Linked DNA regions of Homo sapiens. The protein of the gene in region 2 interacts with the protein of the main gene of each other region in a biochemical or structural test. Each region holds a gene or a part of one and is shown on either strand. Other genes may lie near its edges.

What was found.
Region 1: of the proteins of PABPN1 (region 2) and CARM1, one has a biochemical effect on the other in vitro, tested with the Homo sapiens proteins (one study listed by BioGRID).
Region 3: the proteins of PABPN1 (region 2) and TNPO1 form a complex in vitro, tested with the Homo sapiens proteins (one study listed by BioGRID).

Annotation. Positions count from the first base shown.
Region 1 is NC_000019.10:10,902,109-10,909,849, reverse strand, and holds part of CARM1 (histone-arginine methyltransferase CARM1), read right to left. Parts: intron 4,900-7,741; coding exon 4,774-4,899; intron 1,812-4,773; coding exon 1,705-1,811; intron 1,301-1,704; exon of another isoform or gene 1,056-1,300; intron 748-1,055; coding exon 643-747; intron 1-642. UniProt on the Homo sapiens protein: Methylates (mono- and asymmetric dimethylation) the guanidino nitrogens of arginyl residues in several proteins involved in DNA packaging, transcription regulation, pre-mRNA splicing, and mRNA stability.
Region 2 is NC_000014.9:23,316,459-23,324,587, forward strand, and holds the start of PABPN1 (polyadenylate-binding protein 2), read left to right. Parts: upstream 1-4,998; 5' UTR 4,999-5,011; coding exon 5,012-5,362; intron 5,363-5,547; exon of another isoform or gene 5,548-5,722; coding exon 5,723-5,837; intron 5,838-6,540; coding exon 6,541-6,608; intron 6,609-6,918; coding exon 6,919-7,025; intron 7,026-7,506; coding exon 7,507-7,594; intron 7,595-7,679; coding exon 7,680-7,831; coding exon of another isoform or gene 7,832-7,841; exon of another isoform or gene 7,842-8,129. Other genes in the region: BCL2L2-PABPN1 protein, read left to right, coding at 5,723-5,837, 6,541-6,608, 6,919-7,025, 7,507-7,594, 7,680-7,831.
Region 3 is NC_000005.10:72,882,298-72,890,038, reverse strand, and holds part of TNPO1 (transportin-1), read right to left. Parts: intron 7,573-7,741; coding exon 7,512-7,572; intron 6,976-7,511; coding exon 6,807-6,975; intron 2,970-6,806; coding exon 2,817-2,969; intron 1,962-2,816; coding exon 1,736-1,961; intron 254-1,735; coding exon 82-253; intron 1-81. UniProt on the Homo sapiens protein: Functions in nuclear protein import as nuclear transport receptor. Serves as receptor for nuclear localization signals (NLS) in cargo substrates.

The DNA.
Region 1 (7,741 bases), on a different chromosome or scaffold from region 2:
GGGAACTGATAGAGGCCTCTCAAGCCTATAATGTACATGCTGTGTTGAGTTTATATATCAAATGCATTTGTTTTTCTTGCTTTTTGTTTTTTTTGTTTGTTTGTTTGTTTTTTGAGATGGAGTCTCACTCTGTTGCCCAGGCTGCAGTGCAGTGGCGCGATCTCAGCTCACTGCAAGCTCTGCCTCCTGCGTTCATGCCATTCACCTGCCTCAGCCTCCTGAGTAGCTGGGACTACAGGCGCCCACCACCACGCCCAACTAATTTTTTTGTATTTTTTAGTAGAGACGGGGTTTCATCGTGTTAGCCAGGATGGTCTCGATCTCCTGACCTTGTGACCCGCCCGCCTGGGCGTCCCAAAGTGCTGGGATTACAGGCGTGAGCCACCGCGCCTGGCCTTGTTTATTTGTTTTTTTTTAAGAGACAAGAGTCTCGCTCTGTCGCCCAGGCTGGAGTGCAGTGGCAGAATCATAGCTTACTGCAGCCTCAAACTCATGGACTGAAGCGATCCTCCTGCCTCAGCCTCTGCAGTAACTGAGATAAATGCATTTCTAATCTGAGAAAATTAAAGATAAAATCAATGAGCAAAGAAAAAAAAAACCGAGACAGAAGCAGAGAGGTGGGCACATGCGCGGGCCACTCACCTTGTCCTTGAAGTCGGTGTGGTTTTGCAGGATGGCGCGCTGGTAGGTGCCTGTCCGCACGTAGTCCTGCATCATGTTCTGCTGCTGGGACAGGTAGCCATAAAACTGGAACAGAGACATACCGATGGCACGGGGCACATGGTGGCACGAGGCAGCCAAGGCCCTGGCCAGCCCTGTGATAGAGCAAGGGGCCATCTAGGGCACAAACCTCCCTCGGGAGGTCGTGCACCCTCTGCCTGGGCCCCACTAGCAGCTCCAGGAGAGGGAGCAGGAAGCCGGAGGGCAGCCCCCAGGAGGACACCGCCACTATCACTGCAGCCGATGGCAACAGCTGATGCCGCCTGGACCTGGAAGCCGCCCAGGAGAACTCAAGATTTGCCACAGGCAGGGTTCTGGCATCGGGGGCCACCTGCCTCATCTTGAGGGCCCCAAAGAAGAAGAGAAGCAGATCGAACAGAGCCCTAGAACTCAGAGCGCCAGGCAGGTGAGGTGTGGTGTCTCTCTGTAAGACAACGGGCGATCGGGAGGCAGCGTGGCACCTGGGCAGGGGCACAGACTTTGGCATCAGGCAGACCTGGCTTCCCATCTTGGCTCTGTTGCATATAGCTGTGTGACTTGGAGCAAGTCACTTAACCTCTCTGAGCCTCAGTTTTCTCATCTGTAAAATGGGGACAATAATAGCACTTACCTCCTAGCGTTGTTGGGAGGGTCCAAGTGCTTCTGTGCATGTGACAGCGCTTAGACCAGGGCCTGGCATGCAGGGAGCGCTCAGGGCATTGTAACTGCTCTACCGTTATTCACAACGCCTGTGGCCCTGAGCTCCACCTGTGCTCAGATCCTTCCAGCAACCCTCTCAGGCAGGCACCTGCATCTCCGCTTCACAGATGAGGAAACTGAGGCCCAGCCAGCAGAGGAAACCTGCCCAAGGCTACATGGCCAGTAAGGGACAGAGCCAGGACGGGAACTTGGGTGGGCCTTCCCTGTGCTGTGTGGCCTCCTGCGGGTGAGTGGCAGGGGGGCTGCCGGGGGGAGGCGGCCTGGCTGAGGGGGAGTACAACCCACCTGGAAGTACTGCACGGCAGAAGACTCCTCCGTCCGCTCGCTGAACACAGACCGCTCCAGGGTGTGGCCCCGGCAGGTTTTCAGGATGTTGTAGAAGGAACAGAAATCTGGAACAGGGAAGCCAAGTCACCGGGGGGCGGTCAGCAACCCAGCATGTGGCCATCTGGGAGGGAAGGTTCTGGATGGCCGTATGTCCTGACGTTTCTCCCTTGAACATACAGGGCTGGTGATTTCTCTTCCCCGAAAAACAATTTTCAAAGTTCAAAGAAAAGATGAAGGGCAGCCATGCCTGCACTGTGGTGACTGACATGAGAAGAGGGCAGGTAGCCTGCATGTGGGGCTGCTGTCTGGTGGGAGTGGGCCTGGGGATTCCTCACCAAAGGGCAGCTTGGTGAAGCTCTCTCAAGCACACGCCCACCGGCCCAGGAGTCAAAGCTCTGGCAAATAAGCCCAAGTCCACCCAGAAGCTCAGGGCAGCATCTGTGTGGGGGCAGCAGACACTGCAATGTCCAGTAAGAGGGGACTGGACAAATGCCAGGGGCACAGAAAAGCACAGTAGAGGCCAGGTGCAGTGGCTCATGCCTGTAATCCCAGCACTTTGGGAGGCTGAGGTGGGAGGCTGAGGTGGGCAGATCAGCTGTCAGGAGTTCCAGACCAGCCTGAGCAACATAACAAGACCCTGCCTCGTTAAAAAACAAAAACAAAAACATGAAATAAAAAATTAAGAAAAGCATGGCAGAGAATCACCAATCACCACCCTTCCCAGAGATGCAATGGTATGTGGCCCTTTAAAGCAGGCTCTATCTATTTGGCTGGGGACAGTGGTTCTCAACTGTAATCCCAGCACATTGGGAGGCTGAGGCGGGTGGACTGCTTGAGCCCAGTTTAAGAGGCCAGCCTGGGCAACATAGCAAGACCCTGTCTCTACAAGAAATAATAAGCCGGGCACGGTGGCTTATGCCTGTAATCCTAGCACTTTGGGAGGCTGAGGCGAGTGGATCACTTGAGGTCAGGAGTTCGAGACCAGCCTGGCCAACATGGTGAAACCCTGTCTCTATTAAAAATACAGAAATTAGCCAGGGGTGGTGGCGGGCACCTGTAATCCCAGCTACTCAGGAGGCTGAGGTGGGAGAATCACTTGAACCCGGGAGGTGGAGGTTGCAGTGAGCCAAGATTGTGTGACTGCACTCCAGCCTGGGCAACAGAGTGAGACTCTGTCTCAAAATAAAATAAAATAAAATAAAATAAAATAAAATAAAATAAAATAAAATAAAATAAAATAAAGCTATATTTATTAACATAGAATAATAGCCACTAAATTATATCAAGTAAAAAACAAAACAATATTTAAAAGACAATCTCTTTAAAAATTAAAAGACACGGTCAGGCATGGTTGCTCACGCATGTAATCCTAGCACTTTGGGAGGCGGAGGCAGGCGGATTACCTGAGGTCAGGAGTTCAAGACCAGCCTGGCCAACATGGTGAAACCCCCGTCTCTACTAAAAATACAAAAAATTATCTGGGTACAGTGGCACGTGCCTGTAATCCCGGCTACTCAGGGCGCTGAGGCAGGAGAATCGCTTGAACCTGGGAGATGGAGGTTGCGGTGAGCCGAGATCGCGCCACTGCACTCCAGCACTCCAGCCTGGGTGACAGAGCGAGACTCCGTCTCAAAAACAATGAAAAGACACAGTTCGGGATGAGCAAGTTCTGGAGATGGGCGGTAGTGACAGTTGCACAACAATGTTAATGTGCTGCTTGCTACCAACCTACACACTTCAAAAGGGTTAAAATGATCACATTTTGTTATGTAGATTTTAGCACAACTTTTAAAAACTGACAGAACTGAAATAAAAAATATTAAAATACAAATAGTCTTAAGAGTGGGAACGGCCGGGTGCAGTGGCTCATGCCTGTAATCCCAGCACGTTGGGAGGCTGAGGCGGGTGGATCACTTGAGGCCAGGAGTTTGAGACCAGCCTGGGCAATATGAAAAACTCCATGTCTACTATATTAAAAACACAAAAATTAGCCAGGCACGGTGGCACACACGTGTAGTCCCAGCTACGCGGGAGGCTGAGGCATAAGAATCGCCTTGAACCCGGGAGGTGGAGGTTGCAGTGAGCTAAGATAGCACCACTGAACTCCAGCCTGGGCAACAGAGTGACACTCTTTCTCAAAAAAAAAAAAAAAAAAAAAAAAGGGGCCGGGCACGGTGGCTCACATCTGTAATCCCAGCACTTTGGGAGGCTGAGGCAGGTGGCTCACTTGAGGCCAGGAGTTCAAGACCAGCCTGGGCAACACAGTGAAAACCCATCTCTACAAAAAATTAGCCAGGCATGGCAGCTTCACACAGCTGGCCCCGAGGGCTCAGGCTGCCCAAGGTACATCTGGGTCACTGCACAGCTACCTTGAGACAAGGGGGAGGCCGGCAGTGGCTCATGGGCACGCAGCCTCTCCACCTCCAGCTGTCCTCGCACCAGCACCTGTGTCAACCACTGGACTCACTTCAGGTCTCTGGTAACCAAGCCTGCGGTGGGACCTTCAGACCATCTCCAGCCCTGGGCATTCCTGGACACCTCTCTGCTACCCTGGCTGCATCCACCTGGGGTTCTCCCACCCCTAGTCAGGAATCTTGTGTCCACCTGTGCCCCCAAGGTGGGTTGGTTAAGCCCTTCTGGTGGCTTCTCTGCGCCCTGAGCAAACTCTTCCTGCCTCTAGGACCTCGCCTCACTCCATCCACAGCTGGCCCAGTCACAGCTGGCCCAGGGCTGGCCACTGCCAGAAAGACTGGTCCCAGGTGGTCAGGATGGGCCTCTTGGAGGTGGGGACATAGAAGCCAAGCCCCAAAAGACCCGGAGGAGCCGGTGAGGGAGGGTCTGGGATCCAGGGTCTGCCCAGGCCAGAGTGTATTCTGGGCATACCTGCATGTGGGAATGTGGTTTTGAGGGCAGTGGAGCCTTCTTAAGGATGCACGGGCCACCCCTCAGCCAGGCTCTACGCCCCTGCCCACCAGGGCTCTGGGCGCTTTGGGCTGGTGTCACCGGAATGGAAGGAGGGCCACGTACCGTTGGGTGTGGCGAACTGGATGAGGACGCTGTTGCAGCCCAGGGTGATGATGAAGGACTGCTTGCCCACACGGCTGCACTCTGTCTCTCGGGACACTGAGCACTTAAAGACACACACATCTTCATCTACGAGAGAAGACAGGCTGGCGTGAGCGGTGCAGCCCTGTCAGCTGCCTTCTTTTGAGCCTGGGTCCCTGTCGCCCTCCTGCTGCCTCCCCTTGGTGCCCCCAGATTCTTCCAGAGTGCCACAAAACCACCCTGGCAGCATTGCCGGGTGCCCTGACTGCCCAGCCCACATGGAAGACAAGGGAGCGACTGATCAGACAGCAGGAACACAGCCTGTGTCCTCAGGATGATCAGGGCTGAGACGGGCATGGTGAAGGCTGAGGTGGGCAGACAGGGCCACAAGGCATGGTGCTGGCCCACAGGAACTCAGAGCTGGAGCTGCCTCTGCCCTGCTCGGCTGAGCCCTTCTGTTCTTGGATGGGCGCAGAGCAGTGACTGCATGTGGCCAGTGGAGTCAGACCGCTGGGTTCACACCCCATCCATGCCATTTGTTCACTGTGACACAGGCATGTCCCTCAGCCTCTCTGGAACTGGGGTTCTCACCATCAGATGGGGCTAATGGCGGGGCAGTGGTCTAGTGAATTAGGACACTGTCTCCCTGTACCCATCATGATAGCTGTTACCAGTCATTCATTCCACAAACCTGCAGCCACTCCACTCCAGCCAAATGGTGAAACTTAGCGATGCCAGGAACGGGCCAGCCCAATCAGGCACTGTGCCCCTGCCTGCCATACTGCAGTGGGACAGGTGCATCATCTGTAGTATTCTTGGCAAAAATGTTTGCCCTAGTCTCATCTTCAAGGGACAACAGAAAAGGACAAGTTGTGGGGCAGGCTACAGGACAACCAGCCTGGTCTCCTTGAACAGGCCAATGTCAGGAAAGACCAAAACGGTGGGAGCTATTCCAGAGTGCAGGAGACAAGAAAGAGGGGAGTGCCCAATGCAATGCAAAGTGGGACCCTGGGCTGGAGCCAAACGAAAAATGTTTTTAAAAGTTATACAGGACAACTGGGGAGGCTGGGCCCACACCTCTAATCCCAGCACTTTGGGAGGCCAAGGCAGGAGGATCACTTGAACCCAGGAGCTGGAGATCAGCCTGGGCAGCATAGCAAGACCCCATCTCTACAAAAAAATTTAAAAATTAGGCAGGCATGGTGGCATGCGCCTGTTGTCTTAGGGACTCAGGAGGCTGAGGCTACAGTGAGTCATGACTGTGCCACTGCATTCCAGCCTGGGTGACAGAGCAAGACCTTGTCTCAAAAAAATAAATAAAGGACAACTGGGGAGCTGGACAGAGTGGCTCACACCTGTGGTCCTAGCTACTTGGGAGGCTGAGGTGGGAGGATCGCTTGAGCCCAGGAGGTTGAGGCTGTAGTGAGGTATGATGGTGCCACTGCACTCTAGTCTAGGCAACAGACGTGAGATCCTATTAAAAAAAAAAAAAAAGACAACTAGGGAAATGTGAGTGTGGACTACATATTCCATAATTTTAAGTTATTTGGATGTGACAATGGTATTGTGGTTTTGTAGAGAAATGCATATTTTCTTAGAAAACATATGCGGAAGTATTTATGGCAAATTCCCATGATGTCAGTAGCTTGCTTTTGAATAGCCCATCATAACAACAACAACATGAGTGCAAATATGGCAAAGTGTTCTCAATCACCCTGAATAGCCAAAACAGTCTTGAAAAAGAATGAAGTTGGAGGATTCCCATGTCTCAATTTCAAATTTTACTACGAAGGTACAGTAATGAAAACAGTGTAGTGGTACTGGCAAAAGAAAGGAGACACAGATCAATGGAACAGAATCAGAGTCCAGAAATAAACCCTTATACTTATCCTCAATTGATTTTTGATAAGGATGCCAAGAACATTCAATGGGGAAAGAATAGTGTCTTCAACAAACACTGTTGAGAAAACTGGATAACCACAGAGAAAAGAATGAAGTTAAACCCCTACCTCACACCATATACAAACAAAACAGAACTCAAATGGAGCAATGACCTAAATATAAGAGCTAAAACAAGAAAACTCTTAGGAGAACTATTTGCAAATCATCTATTGTTAAGTATTTAGTGTCCAGAATATATAAAAAACTATTTTAGGGTCAGGCATGGTGGCTGACACCTGTAATCCCAGTACTTTGGGAGTCAGGCAGATTACTAGAACCCAGGAGTTTGAGACCAGCCTGGGCAACATGGTGAAATCCCGTCTCTACTAAAAATATAAAAATATTAGTCGGTGTAGTGGCATGCGCCTGTAGTCCCAATTACTTGGGAGGCTGAGGTGGGAGAATCACCTGAGCCCAGGAAGTTGACACTGCAGTGAGCAGAGATGGCAACGCTGCACTCTAGCCTGGGTGACAAGAATAAGAGCATGTCTCAAAAAAAAAAAAAAAAAGTCTGGGCACAGTGGCTCACGCCTGTAATCCCAGCACTTTGGGAGGGCAAGATGGGTGGATCACGAGGTCAGGAGATCAAGACCATGCTGGCTAACACAGTGAAACCCTGTGTCTACTAAAAATACAACAAAACAAAACAAAACAAAATTAGCTGGGCATAGTGGCAAGTGCCTATAGTCCCAGCTACTCAGGAGGCTGAGGCAGGAGAATGGTGTGAACCCGGGAGGTGGAGCTTGCAGTGAGCCAAGATCACACCACTGTACTCCAGCCTGGGCAACAGAGTAAGACTCCGTCTCAAAAAAAAAAAAAAAAAAAAAGAAACAACAATTATTTTGTATCTATTTTTATTATATTTATTTTTTGAGATGGAGTCTCACTCCATCACCCAGCCTGGAATGCAGTGGCACAATTTTGGCTTGCTGTGACCTCTGCCTCCCAGATTCTAGGGATTCTCCTGCCTCAGCCTCCCGAGTAGCTGGGGGACTACAGGTGTGCACCA
Region 2 (8,129 bases):
ATTACTGAAGATGACTCATTCAGTTATCATTTACTGAGCACAGAGTGATAGGCAAAGGGAACACAAATATAAGATGGTTCCCTGTCTTTTACAGTTTATAGACTAATAGGGAAGGATCTTACAAGTCACCATTCAAAAAGCTTTTTTTTTTTTTTGAGACAGTCTCACTCTGCTGCCCAGACTGGAGTGCAGTGGCACGATCTCGGCTCACTGCAACCTCCGCCTCACGGGTTCAAGTCATTCTCGTGCCTCAGCCTGCTGAGTAGCTGGGATTACAGGCGCACGCCACCATGCCCAGCTAATTTTTGTATTTTTAGTAGAGACGGGGTTTCGCCATGTTGGCCAGGCTGGTCTCGAACTCCTGACCTCAGGTGATTTACCCTCCTCGGCCTCCCAAAGTGCTGGGATTACAGGCATGAGTCATCGCACCTGTCCCTCAAATAGCCTTTTAAATATGTTTGCTTTTTTCTTTTTTTGAGACAGGGTCCTACTCTGTTGCTGAGGCTGGAGTATTGTGGCATGATCATAGCTCACTGCAGCCTGGAACCCCTGGGTTCAAGTGATCCTTCTGTCTCAGCGTCTGGATTAGCTGGGACTATGCCACCACACTCAGCTAATGTGTTTGTTTCTTTCATAAGGTAATTATGCCTAGTAGAAGAAGTTTGAAAGTTGGAGTGATTTTTTAAAAATAAATATGTAATGGGCTGGACATGGTGTCTCATGCCTGTAATCCCAACACTTTGGGAGGCTGAGTTGGGCAGATGGCTTGAGCCCCAGGAGTTTGAGACAAGCCTAAGCAACATAGTGAGACCTTGTCTCCACAAAAATAGAAAAAATTAGCTGGGCATAGTGGTGCACACCTGTAGTCCCAGCCACTTCGGAAGCTGAGGAGGGAGGATTGCTTGAGCCAGGAGTTTGAGGGTGTGGTCGGCTGTGATCATGCCACTGTATTCCAGCCTGGGCGACAACGACCCTGTCTCAAACAACAAAGGCAGCAAAATAAACAAGTAAATAAATAAATAATGATTGTGGAAAATTTGTAGAACATAGAAAATTATAAAGAAAATGAATCATAATGCTGTCACCCAGAGACAATTACTATTTTGGTATACTTCTTTCTAGTATTTGTTTGTCTGCTTTTATGATCATGCAATTTTGTATACGCAATTCTGCTTACCATTATATTGCAAGCATTTTTTCTTGATGTTAAAATGTTTCAAAGTCATAATGACTATATACAATTACTTCTACTTGTGTACAGTAATTTTAATGCCCACTTGGTCCTTTATCTGTATTTTTTCACTTTGATAAAAATACTTATTCTGGCTGGGCATTGTGGCTCACGCCTGTAATTCCAGCACTTTGGGAGGCTGAGGCGGGCTGATCACCTGAGTTCAGGAGTTCGAGACCACCGTGGGCAATATGGTAAAACCCCATCTCTACTAAAATACAAAAAATTAGCTGGGCTTGGTGGTGGTGCGCCTGTAGTACCAGATACTTAGGAGGCTGAGGCACAAGAATCGCTTGAGCCCTGGAGGTGGAGGTTGCAGTGAGCTGAGATTACGCCACTGCACTCCAGCTTGGTTGGGCTATGGAGTGAGACTCTGTCTCAAAAAAAACAAAACAAAAACAAACAAACAAAAAATATTTATTCACAAATTGGATTACATTTTTAGAAGAGATAAGAAATAGGATTACTGGGTTAAGAATCTCAACTTTTTTTTTTTTTTTTTGGAGAGAGTCTCCCTCTGTCACCCAGGCTGGAATATAGTGTCGCGATCTTGGCTCACTGCAACCTCCACCTCCCAGGTTCAAGCCTTTCTCCTGCCTCAGCCTCCTGACTAGCTGGGATTACAGGCGCCCACCACCACACCCAGTTAATTTTTGTACTTTTAGTAGAGACAGGGTTTCACCATTTTGGCCAGGCTGGTCTCGAACTCCTGACCTTAGGTGATCCACCTGCCTTGGCCTCCCAAAGTGCTGGGATTACAGGCCGTGAGCCACCTCACCTGGCTCTTTTTTTTTTTTTTTTTTTGAGACAGGGTCTCACTCTGTTGCCAGTCTGAAGTGCACGTAGCACCAATTATGGTTCACTGTAGCCTCAGCCTCCCAAGTAGCTGGGCAGGGACTACAGGCACACGCCACTTTGCCCAGCTAATTTTTGTATTTTTAGTGGAGAATGGGTTTTGCCATATTGCCCAGGCTGGTTTTGAACTCCTGGACTCAAGCAATCTGGCTCCCAAAGTGTTGTGAGCCACTCCGCCTGGCCTTAAGAATCTCACCATTTTAAAAGCTTTTGATATATACTGCCAAAGAATAGAAAGATTGTACTGGTTCTTGCTCCTTTTTTCCTCCCATGCCTAAGTTTTTAAAAAAAATCAGATATAGTTGTAATTATATATTATGTACAATTTTACATTCTTCTTTGGCTTAACAAAATTATTTTCGCATGTTTGTCATACTATGTAACCCTTTTAAGAGATGCATAATAATTTTTTTTGGATATAATTATAGTTTGCTTAAACTTTTGTTTATTGTTGGAATTTAGTCTTGCCATTTTTCACACATAATTTTTATGTATTAAAGCAGGCCTTATAGTAGTAGTGATCTGAGCTTTGAAAGCTGGCTTTGAATTCCCTGCACATTATTATATATATTACATAATATATATTATGTATAATATATATATAATTTTTATTTTTTCCTTTGAGACAGAGTCTTGCTGTTGCCCAGGCGATTCTCCTGCCTCAGCCTCCCGAGCAGCTGGGTTTACAGGCATGTACCACCATGCCCAGCTAATTTTTGTATTTTTAGTAGAGATGGGGTTTCGCCATGTTGGCCAGGCTGGTCTGAAACTCCTGGGCTCAGGTGATCCTCCCGCCACAGCCTCCCAAAGAGCTGGGATAACAGGTGTGAGCCACCACGCCCAGCCAGCCCTGCACACTTCTAATTAGTCCAATGACTTAGGCAAGTTTCTTCATTTCATTAAGCCTTTTTCTTTTTCCCTAAAAAAGGTTATGGTTTTGGAAATACTTTCCCCGTGGGGTTGTTGTGAGAGTCCAGTGAAATAATAAGGAGTGGTGCTTATTACAAAATCAAACGCTCAACAAAAATAGGATTCAAAGCCATTTTTAAAAATCACATTTCCTTTTGTTGGCTTGATTAAATTGGGTACCAATAAGATTAACAAATCTTGATTAGGTTAAGATTAGTATAAAAGACCTTTCTTCCAGGGTATTCAATCATTTAGAGCTTGTCTTCGGTGCTCAACTTTAGTTATCCCAGATCACTGAAGCTGAGATGGCTGATGAAGTAATTTGCAGTGAAATTTTAAGCGACTGTGACTCTGCTGCAAGTTCCCCAGATCTTGAGGTAAGGAATTGTGAGAAAAAGTGGGGGTGAGGGGAATAGTGGGGTATAATGAGTCACTTGATTTTTTGGTTTGCTAATGAGGATCTTCTCTTGTCCAAATCCCTCGGCCAACCATGTTTGTTTAACTTTTTGGTTGGGCTATATGTATCTTTCGAACTGTAGGTTAGTGTGCCCACAAAAATTTCTCTTGCAAACGTACACTGCCATTCCTTTCTTTTTAATAAATGTGTAGGACTGCTACCAAAATATGGCAGTCCTGCCTTCCAGGGCTAGGTCTCATTGGTACTTGGGGTGCAGGGGTGTAGTGGGAACCTGCCAGGAGAAATTCCTCTGGGATCTTGGGGGCTTGAGGGCTTAAATGAAGGGTGGCACCCAAATCCCCAATCAATGCCTGTTCAATCAACAAACATCTAACAGGACATTATGTGGTAGGCATATTGCCAGGCCGTGGAGATGCGAATATAAATAGGAACCGGCCCCTCATCTGCAGGCGCTCACAACCTAGTTAGGAAACAGTAAAACAATTAAGCGCGCCGTGGAGATAGGCCCACTTGTCCTGGGAAATGAGGGGAAGCTGGGGTTTGCAGTGGTTTGATTGAAGGGGGACTACATGTTAGAGGCACAGACTGGGTGCAGGTACACCCAAAGGAACGAGAAGAGTGGAAGGAAACAACATCCACAAAGTAACCACATGCTGGCGTATCGAAGGCCGTGATTTACGGTTTTGAGACTTTACCTCGCCAGCAAAGGGGGGCCAGTCTGTTAGCGGTGCAGATTGGAGGGGTGACATTGGAAGCTGTCCAGGAAAAAGAAAATGGAACTGGGGAGCAGAAGGCCTACGCAAGAGGGCGGGACAGACAGGACTTGTGACTAGTAGCTCTGGACTGAGGAATCCTCCCTGCTTTCTGGTGCGGGAGAGCTAGTGGATGATGGTGCCAATAACCTGGATGGGGAAAGTAAGCTCCCTCCTGGAATGCTTCATTCACAACCTCCATTTTCAGCAACATCCCATCTACTGGTGCTTCCTGGTCGAGATACAAGTTTCCTGAAACTGCTGCTCTGTTTTGGGCCTCACCCGGCCAACAGCTCACTAGCTGGCAAGCAGTAGTATCAAGATGGCGGCCCCCTAGGACTGGCTAGTCATGTGACCTCGGGTTTCCCAAGTTTGAAGCCCGGCAGTCCTTTCGGGGGCAAGGTTCACCTGTCACGAAACGAGTGTCACCCCTTCGACTCTCGCAAGCCAATCGGCATCTGAGACTGGGCCACTGCGGTGAGGCGATCGGAAGATTGGTCCTTTCCAGTCGCCTAGCTAGGGCCAATCACGGAGCGTCCCATACTTCGCGGGCCCGCCCGTAGGCCGGGGAGAAGCAGGAATATCGTCACAGCGTGGCGGTATTATTACCTAAGGACTCGATAGGAGGTGGGACGCGTGTTGATTGACAGGCAGATTTCCCCTACCGGGATTTGAGAATTTGGCGCAGTGCCCCGCCTTAGAGGTGGGGCCTTATTTGATTGCCAAGTAATATTCCCCAATGGAGTACTAGCTCATGGTGACGGGCAGGCAGCTTGACTAATGAGTCCTCGGCGTGGCCGGCGCAGCTCTCCAATCGCCGGGCGGCGGGCCCCAGTCTGAGCGGCGATGGCGGCGGCGGCGGCGGCGGCAGCAGCAGCGGGGGCTGCGGGCGGTCGGGGCTCCGGGCCGGGGCGGCGGCGCCATCTTGTGCCCGGGGCCGGTGGGGAGGCCGGGGAGGGGGCCCCGGGGGGCGCAGGGGACTACGGGAACGGCCTGGAGTCTGAGGAACTGGAGCCTGAGGAGCTGCTGCTGGAGCCCGAGCCGGAGCCCGAGCCCGAAGAGGAGCCGCCCCGGCCCCGCGCCCCCCCGGGAGCTCCGGGCCCTGGGCCTGGTTCGGGAGCCCCCGGCAGCCAAGAGGAGGAGGAGGAGCCGGGACTGGTCGAGGGTGACCCGGGGGACGGCGCCATTGAGGACCCGGTGAGGGAAGGAGGGCGAGCGAGCAGGCCGGCGGCTGGCCGGCCGGGTCACTGGAGGCCCAGAGCTCGGGCGAGCGGGTGGCAGGCGGGGGGTGGGGTTGGGCGGGGAATAACGTGGCTGGGGCCGGGTCGGGCCGGGGATGGGTCAGCGATCACTACAAGGGGCCCGACTGGCTTGATTCGGGCGTCACGGTTGCCTAGTGTTGTTCTAGAGAGGGTAGCTTTTCTTTTATCACGACCCTCGCATGGGGCGAGGGAAATGGCCGAGCATGGCTGAGGCCGCGCTCTGGCCGAGAGCAGGGCACAGCCCCTGCGTTGGTTCCTCTTAAGCTGTCCTCCATACCCTCCCCACTTATATTAGGAGCTGGAAGCTATCAAAGCTCGAGTCAGGGAGATGGAGGAAGAAGCTGAGAAGCTAAAGGAGCTACAGAACGAGGTAGAGAAGCAGATGAATATGAGTCCACCTCCAGGCAATGGTGAGTAACTGGCGGTTGCACGCGGAGCCCGGGTTCTCGGGTTGGAAGGGTTGTGGGGAGGATGGGGAATGTGGGGTTAGATACTCGGCACCCTGGAGCTGCTTGTCTGAGCTATTATGACTGTGCCGCGGTCATAGTCCGTTGTGTGTTCCTCTGACCTTTGTGAGGCAGAACGTATATTTTGGTGGTGGTAGCCTTGTGCCTCCCTTTGTGCCTGTTATAATTGTGTTGCTCTTTGTTCTTAGTCTACGTCTATCTTTCTTTGTAGAGGTTGCGTGCTCGCATTTGACCTTCAAATCTAATAGTTTTTCCTCCAATTGGAGACGCTTTAGGATTCTAAGAGAAAGCAAGCTGCAAGGGGTTTCCCCTTTAATCTAGAAATGTGGAGTCTCAGCCCACTTAATTTTGCTCACTCTTAAAAGCATTTCAACCAAAGCCATTCATTAGGGATTTGATTTGGAGGCAGGAGGGATTCCTATACTGTTTTAAGTGTGTATTAATTCTTTCAATTTATTGAATATTTAGTGAGTACCTGCTATGCACTAGGCACTATTCTCGGTTGTGGGTACAGCAGGGAACAGCACAGACCAAAATCTTTGCCTTCACTGAGCTTATGGGATAGTGCTGGTGGTGGAAGTGCAACATATTGGTCAAGTAGAAAACAAGTGTGTGGTTTTTGTAAAAAATTATTTTTTCCTGATAGCTGGCCCGGTGATCATGTCCATTGAGGAGAAGATGGAGGCTGATGCCCGTTCCATCTATGTTGGCAATGTACGTACTGGGGCTCTGACTGGGGTTGGGGGCAAGTTCTTCTTTTGGGGAATTATTTAATAGTCCTGAAAGGAACATCTCCGGGATAGATGTGGTTTTGGGTGTGGAGGGAGTGTGGGAAGGAGGTTAAAGGTAATGGAATGATCAGTAATCAGCAAAGGCTCTGGGTTTGGAAGGAAAAGAGATTAATTCCTCAAATTACCAGATTTCATGTGCTTTGGTGTATGATGGCCCAGACCAAAGGCTCGGGAGGGTTCCTTTTGAGACAGGAATTTGCCTGGTGCCTGTGAAATTTTTCTCCTCTCATCAGGTGGACTATGGTGCAACAGCAGAAGAGCTGGAAGCTCACTTTCATGGCTGTGGTTCAGTCAACCGTGTTACCATACTGTGTGACAAATTTAGTGGCCATCCCAAAGGGTAAGTAAAGGGGAGTAAGTTGAGATAATTTAAATTACAGTGTACAAATAGATAAATTATGTTTTATATTGAGCAGTAAGTTATTTGGTGTTAACACAGGTGATCTGTGTCATTTAAGATCATGGCATTAATGTTGATATATCAGGAGTTGCACCTAAATGTCTTCAGAGGCCAGATAACAAAAATGAAGGCTAGATGTGGGTGGGATTACGAACTAGAAGGGGAGGGGCAGCTTCTACTTGGCCTATTATGGCCATATGGAAATTCAGGCCCTGTGTGTCTTATTTTTACAAATTTCAAAGAGTAGCTGGAAATTTTAAAATTTAAATGATTTCGAATGATTGAAATTTTCCATTTAGAAGAATTTTGACAAATAAAAAATATAACTGCATTGTAGCCCAAAACGAAGCATGCCTGCAGGTTGAATTTGACCTGTGAGGTATTTGTAACCTCAGAGAGATACAATGACAATTCTTTTCAGGTTTGCGTATATAGAGTTCTCAGACAAAGAGTCAGTGAGGACTTCCTTGGCCTTAGATGAGTCCCTATTTAGAGGAAGGCAAATCAAGGTAAGCCTATGTCCATTGCTGTTCTAGTTGTGTATAAACTCTCCAGGTTGCCTTTAAGGCTATCATTTGTTCATCTCTGACTCAGGTGATCCCAAAACGAACCAACAGACCAGGCATCAGCACAACAGACCGGGGTTTTCCACGAGCCCGCTACCGCGCCCGGACCACCAACTACAACAGCTCCCGCTCTCGATTCTACAGTGGTTTTAACAGCAGGCCCCGGGGTCGCGTCTACAGGTCAGGATAGATGGGCTGCTCCTCTTTCCCCCGCCTCCCGTGAGCCCCGTATGCTTCCTCCTCTCTGGTCTGAGGAACCTCCCTCCCCCCACCCCTCCCCGTGGTCTTCAGGAACTTTGTCTCCTGCCTGTGCAGGTTGAGGAAGGTAGTTGCAGGCCAGGCCAGAAGGCCAGCCTCATCATCTTTTCTGCAGTAGAAATTGGTGATAAGGGCTGCATCCCTCCCTTGGTTCAAAGAGGCTTCCACCCCCAGCCTTTTTTTTCTTGGGAGTTGGTGGCATTTGAAGGTGTTTGCGGAC
Region 3 (7,741 bases), on a different chromosome or scaffold from region 2:
TAATTTCCAAATATATGCTAATCTATTAATTGTAACTATGCTACACATTATTTTCCCTAATAGTTCTTAACAGATACTTACTGGTTTGTTTAAATGATGTCCTACTGAATCTGCTAATGTTCCTATGGCATCGTAAAGAATGAGCAGGTTCTTATGCTGGTATTTACTAAATGCAAAGACCAGGGTATCAAGTATATAAGCAAGGTAAGGAACAAGTTCTGTACAAGCCTCCTCTTCTAGGGTAGCAAAGGCACTGTTTAAAAAAAAAAAAAAAGAATACTTATTGACTGTAAGATATATCTAACTCTTAATTGCTAAAATGTTTATGTTCTGTTTTACCCAATCAGGAATTTCCTAAAATGGTCTAAGCCATCTGTTAATGAAAGCCCTGGTCATCAGCACTGTGAATTATTTACCGATTTCTTCCATAGCACTTGCCATAAATGATAATTATGTTGCTGCTTTGTATTTCCTACTAACCTGTAAGTCTCAAGATGGCAGGGACTTTATGTAAACTCAGCATTTAGTATATGCTTAACAATTAATAGCTAAAAAAAAAAACCGAGGTACTGAATGAATAAATTATAGGATCTCAAACATAATCTATATCCTCCCTCCCTTAATATCTTCCAGATATGACTGCTTCAGATGGATTAAGGTCAAACTCAAATTTACTATCCCTGCCAGGCGCGGTGGCTCACGCCTGCAATCCCAGCACTTTGGGAGGCCAAGATGGGTGGATCACTTGAGGTCAGGAGTTCAAGACCAGCCTGGCCAACATGACAAAACCCCATCTCTACTAAAAATACAAAAATTAGCTGGGCATGGTGTCGCACACCTGTAGTCCCAGCTACTCAGGAGGCAGAGGCAGGAGAATTGCTTGAACCCGAGAGGCGGAGGTTACAGTAAGCCAAGATCACACCACTGCACTCCAGCCTGGGCGACAGAGCAAGACTCCATCTAAAAAAAATAAAATAAAATTTTCCTTTTTTTTGTTCAACAGTTATTTTTTCCTACTATCAAGGTCAATGGTAAAAGCAAACCTACTCGAAAAATTAAGAACTATAAACATAAGCAGAAGGCCCTTTTAAAATATAAAGGTATATTGCAGGAAACTGGAATATTTGTAGTAATAAAAGCAACTGCTGGCTTGATATAAAGAGACAGCCACCAAACCAACCAATAGAATGGCTACTAGAGCAGAACTACTAAGCACTCAAAGACCTTTAACTGGTAAGTGACAGACCACAGGTCCCTGTGGGACTTTCTGAGTTATGGTGGTTGACCTGTAGTCTAAGGATGTCAATCTGCTCAAACGTTGTTATTCCTTCAAGAGTAGGAGTCCTGCCATCACTAGTTCAGATGTCTGAGGGAATTAGGGTGTAAGATAGTTCTGTTATAATAACCACTGAGTGGGAAAAATGAGCCAAAGAAGAAACAGCTAAGATCGATGTTGTCACATTTAGATCTACAAAATCATCAGGTAAAACCCACATGACAAAATTCTCCTGGCCAAACAAAATGTATAAAATACGCTAATATGCAAACCCAAAAGCTACAGATCCTGCAAAACACTTCACCAAGAAGAAAAAAGAAAACTAAGCTTTCTGATATAACTGGAAAATTTTCAATTACGAAACACTTCATTATAGGTTTAACACCAACACTCCATCAGAAGGTTGAAAATTAAGTTTTTCACTGCCACAAAGAACACTGTGTTATGAATCTGTCCCACCTGCAGGCAGCTTCTTGTACTCTCTTGTTGCTGTCCAGGATGCGCTTTAGCAATTCTGTCATTAATGGCTTCAGGTACGTGTCTGGCGGCTGGCTGACCACCCAGTGTGCATAGCGGCTAAGAGTCCAGCATGTTATGGAACGCACAAGAGCCTTTTTATCAGAGAGGCACTGAATAAGGTGAGGAATAAGCTCAGGCAAGTATGGAATCATGCCCTGCATGCAACCTAGAAAAAAAATAAATCTTTCAAAATGCTAAAATTTAGTTAACATTATTTTGGTTGATTATGAAAATAAAACACGTATCTATGAAAAAATTCAGAATATTTCTACTGCTATACACATACTACAATAACCTATACCAAAATTATTTTTAAAACCCTGAAGTTAGAGCTACCTGCTCCCAAGCATCTTACAGTGTTTCAATTTCTTCTAATAGATGTTTACTGCCAGGACAAAATCAATAATAACCCTTCATAGAGAATGAAGAGAGTCTTGCCTTATTGTGTTTCCTATACTTACCTAAAGAATCAAGGATTTTTTTTTAAAGCAATGGGGATGCTTCAGACATCAGAGCCTTTCATTCTGTTCCCTTAATTTTTTTGTTTTTATTTTTTATTGAGATGGAGTCTTGCTCTGTCACCCAGGCTGGAGTGCAATCGCACGAATTCAGCTCACTGCAACTACCACTTCCCAGGTCCAAGCAATTCTCCTGCCTCAGCCTTCCAAGTAGCTGGGACTACAGGCACATGCCACCACGCCCAGCTAATTTTTGTATTTTTAGCAGACGTGGTTTCGCCATGTTAACCAGGCTGGTCTTGAAACCATCTCAGGTAATCCACCCGCCTAAGCCTCCCAAAGTGCTGAGATTATAGGCGTGAGCCACCATGCCTGGCCTCTGTTACCTTTATTATAACAAAAACATTTTGCAAAATATCTAGCTGGGGTTAGAAGACGGCCTATGGCTGTTTAATACTAGTTATCTGGTTCAAAATAGAAATTCCTTAAAGTAGCCTAGCCTTATTAGTACCTAATAGTAGTAAGAAGCCAACTTACATAATTCAAACTGGACTTAGGCTTACCTTCAGCAATTGCTCCTAAAACCAAAATGCCTGATTCTTTAACAACCCATTCATGATGAAAAAGTAATTCTTTCAAAAGGGGCAAAATATGTGGCAGCAGTTCATCACGATACACATTTGCAAGAACATCCAGGGCAGCAGCAGAACATTTTCCTAAGGAAATATTTAATTCAAAAATATTACATTAACCTCTTATTACTTATATATTATTTATTGTATATGTAACATTTTATTCGTATCTCTAATACGGAGTTTTAAAATAAGAATTCAATTGAATAGGAGGTAGTTTGTCACGTGAAAACATTTTGTGGTTTTTTTTTTTTTTTTTTTTTTTGAGATGGAGTCTTGTTCTGTCGCTCAGGCTGGAGTGCAGTGGTGCGATCTTGGCTCACTGCAACCTCTGCCTCCCAGGTTCAAGTGATTCTCCCGCTTTAGCCCCCTGAGTAGCTGGGATTACAGGTGTGTGCCAGTACGCACAGCTGATTTTTAGGAGAGACGGGGTTTCACCATGTTGGCCAGGATGGTCTCAAACTCCTGACCTCGTGATCCACCCTCCTCAGCCTCCCAAAGTGCTGGGATTACAGGTGTGAGCCACCATGCCCAGCCAAAAACATTTTCTATTAAGATGAATATTTTTTATGACAAGAACTTACTTGGCAAATTAATTGTGAACACATTGTATTCTGTACATAACTGTCATACTAGAATTCTGTCTATACAGTAAAACAAATACTGTGCCACTCAATTCAGTGCTTCTAACATAACCATTCAATATGATACACTCATATTACAATCATGATTACAATCACTGTTACAATCACGCAAAAAACATACATTATTAACTCTACTTAACATTTCCAGCAGTATATCATCTAGAATTAAACAGACAATTACTTAGCTGGACTTTAGACACAAAAACTGGAAGAAAAGTCACTGGCACATGAAACATAACGCATGCTAGAAAATACTCTTTACAAAGAATTAACTATGGGACTATAAATCAACCCAGATTTTATTATAATAATAATTTAGACAAGAGCAACAAAATCAAAAAGAACAACAAAAATATCATTTAACTGTTATGGGTAGGAACGTGTTCCTGAAGTTCATGTATTAGAAACCTAATCCCTAAAGCAACGAAGATGGGAGGTGGGGCCTATCAAGAGATGATTAGGTCTTAAGGGTTCTGCCCTCATAAATGGGTTAATGTCGTTACTGTAGGAGTGGGTTAGTTATCAAGAGAGTTGGCTTATTATAAGCGTGAATTGAGCTCTTAAGTGTGTCCTTCTGTCATCAGATGATGTTGCAAGGAGGTTCTCACCAGATGCAGCCCCTCCATTCTGAACTTCAGGTATCCTGTTATAGTAGTACAAAATGGACTAAGAAAATATCAGAAATTTCCAACGTGAACTAGGCATAGTAAATGGCTAATCACAAACTACTAGACAATAATAAAATCCTCAAAAAAAAAAAAAAAAACCAAACCAAACCAAAACAAAACCATTACATTGGCCAGAAATTAACACCTTACCCATCAATAAGGATCTTAGTTATACCACATGGTAGAGCCATACAACTAAACAGTACACTGACATGCAACAAAAGGAAATCTAAATCTGTATGTACTGAGGAAGAATGAGGCATACGATACACAGAAAGAAAGCAGCAGAGTACATATAATCTGATTTCACTTTTAGAAAACTGGCTTCTCCTCTAAAAAAGATGCCTGTATGTTTTCCCAAGCACGCACAGAAAAGCTTTTGGAAGGATACAAAGAATGGGATGTGAAGAGGAAGTGTTCCCCCATCCATGTATGTATATTATTTTGTAGAGTTTTCTGTGTAATGATCTTGAGCCATCCTGCTCCCCTAATCTGAAAGTAGGGATACACTGGGAAGTAATTTGTAATAGTAGTAAACACCATGTGTTGTCTTAACAAGTGAGACTTGGGTCCCAGTACTAGATGTGCTATCAGTACTAGCTATGCTAACCTTGGGTATATCTCTCTTTCTGCAGTTTTCTTGCCTATTCAAGGTTGTTGGAAATGTTAAATATGACTTTATTCTTACTTATGATTAAACAGACTTTGATATGCATGCAAAGTCCTTGGCCTAGTGCCTGGCACATTAGGCACTCTAAATAGAATGTTAGTTACAGGAAACTGAAGAGGCAACAGAGAAATTAGCATTATCTAACCAAATGAAGAACACAGCCCAGACTGATAATGTCTGTTCTTAACTGCTTTAATCATAGTTATTAGAAATCCCAACACTTTGAACTAGAGTAGTGGCTCTAAACTGGGGTTGATTTTGTTCCCCCAGGAGATAACGGTTGTCACAACTGTGTTTGTGCTGCTGGCATCTTTGGGTAGAGGCCAGGGATGCTGCTTAACATCCCACAACGTGCAGGACAGCCTCCGCAACAAAGAATTACATGCATGATGTGGCATTCACATGTAGAAAAAAAAAAAGAATTATGTGGCCCAAAATGCCAATAGTGCCAAGGCTGAGAAACCCTGAACTAGAGCAGTAGAGGTTTAAAATCCAGCAAACAAGCAAGCAAAATCAGAACACAGGTGTTTAGGTTCATCCCCAATTAGGAAGCGTGGGCCAGAATGCTAGCTCCACAGGTGATATGATTTGCAGCTAAGGTTGGAAATTAACATATTTTAAGAAGCATATTTCATAAATTTTGACTATAACAAAGCAACTTATAATAAATTTGAATATAATAAAGCAACTTATATTATTTTAGAATTACCTATGATAGCCAATTTTCATGCAAATTACCAGACAGAAAACACTCATGTTAGAAAAACCAAAAAAGCTTGTGGCAATGTTCTTACAGTATTAAAACAAACAGCCTTTTGAGAAATGGTAGTTTAAGAATATAATAATGATAAAATAAGAGCAGGTCCACCAGGAAAATGCAAACCAAAACCACAAAATACCACTTCACGTCCACTAGAATGACTATAATAATAAAGAGATAATAAAGCAAGTGAGCATGTGAAGAAACTGGAACCCTCCAGACAATGCTGCTAGGAAAGCAGAATGGTGCAGTCACTTTGGAAAACATCCTGGTTATTTCTCAAAAGGTTAAACATACAGTTACCATATGACCCCAACAATCCTTCTCCTGAGTGTTTACCCAAGAGAACTGAATACACATTGGGCCAGACACAGTGGCTTACGCCTGTAATCCTAGCACTTTGGGAGGGCAAGGCGGGTGGATCGCTTGAGCCCAACAGTTCAAGACCAGCCTGGGCAACATGGCAAAACTGTCTCTACCAAAAAAAAAAAAACAAAAATTCATCCAGGTGTATTGGTGAGCACCTGTAGTCCCAGCTACTTGGGGAGCTGAGGTGGGAGGATCACCAGAGCCCAGGGAGGTCAAGGCTGCGGTGGGCCATGACTGCGCCACTGCATAATCATGCTAGCCTGGGTGACAGAGACCCTGCCTCAAAACAAAAAAACAAACAAACAAACAAAAAAAGTCTACACACAAAAATTATACATGAGTATTTATAGCATCACAACTCAACAGCTACAAAAAGAGAAACACAAATGTCCACCAACCAATGAATGGAGAATATGTGGCATATTACAATGAAATATTATTTCACAATACAAGTGAATGCTACAAAATGAACCGTGAAAACTTTATGCTAAGTTAAAGAAGATGGTCACAAAGGACAATGCATTGTATGACTCCATTTACATGAAATGTCTAGAATAGGCAAACCCAGAGACAGAATATTGACTAGTAGTTGCCCAGAGCCAGTGAACAATAGGGAGTTACTGCTAAAGGGTATGGGTGATGAAAACATAGTCTACAACTGATTGTGGTAATGGTTGAACAGCTCTCTGAATATACTAAAAACCAATGAAATGTATACTTTAATGGGTAGTAAACTGTACAGTAGATGAATTATACCCCAATAAAGTTATCATCAAAGTAGGCAACTGTGCTTTTCCCTTTCTGACTTACTTAGATTCCAGTCAGAAATTGTATCATCATCATCAATTTCATCATCATCATCATCTTCCTCTTCAATTCCATCTTCATCATGCTGCTGAGCCACCGTCCTCGATCGGTGAAAACGTGGCCGTATATCCTGTTCACTATCAGGAATCGTTTCGTCTTCTTCAACATCACCCTGTTGTTTTTTTAAGAGAAATTTTTGGTGGCATTCATTATAGGCTAATAGTATGTACATGAGTAAGAGAAACAGAATATCCAGAGATGGGGTCATGCACAGAATTCTGAAATATACTTCCAGAGTGATTAAGAACCACGCCCATGTACAGAACATATTCCTTATGGAGGGGCGAATAGACTGACCTAACACACCTGTTAGGTTATACGGCCCTTTCAGCCAACTACATGGCCTCCACTGGCTGGTATAATCTAAGTTACCTGAATCAAATTCAGAGCAGCATATATAAGAATGTTTTTAAAATAACTCCAAGTAATTAAGGGGAAATTAATAATAACCCTACCAATGTCACCATCTAGTACCAAATTAAGCAAGAATTTATCATTACTTAAACTTATGCTTCTATCCTATTATGGATAATAGGAAGTCTATTTACAGGAGATCTATTCTCAATGAATGTTTTATTGGCCAAATCCAAAGATGTACTAAGTCAATATAAAAATCTTGTTCCCTATTCATCAAAAAAGCTTCCTTACCTTAAGTAGGATAATATCTATGTCTGAGTACTTCATGCCATTCACTAACACAGGAATCAACCTATAAAGAAAGAAATTCATGAAACAAAGACCTTAAGATCTCAAGAGAATAATTAATAAGTCTTAACCTTACATGTACTAATAAAACCAATGAGATAATCAATGGTAATATTGTCTTTGAACTTATTCAGTGATATATGTCTGCTCTCATTAACTGAAGAAACGCTAAT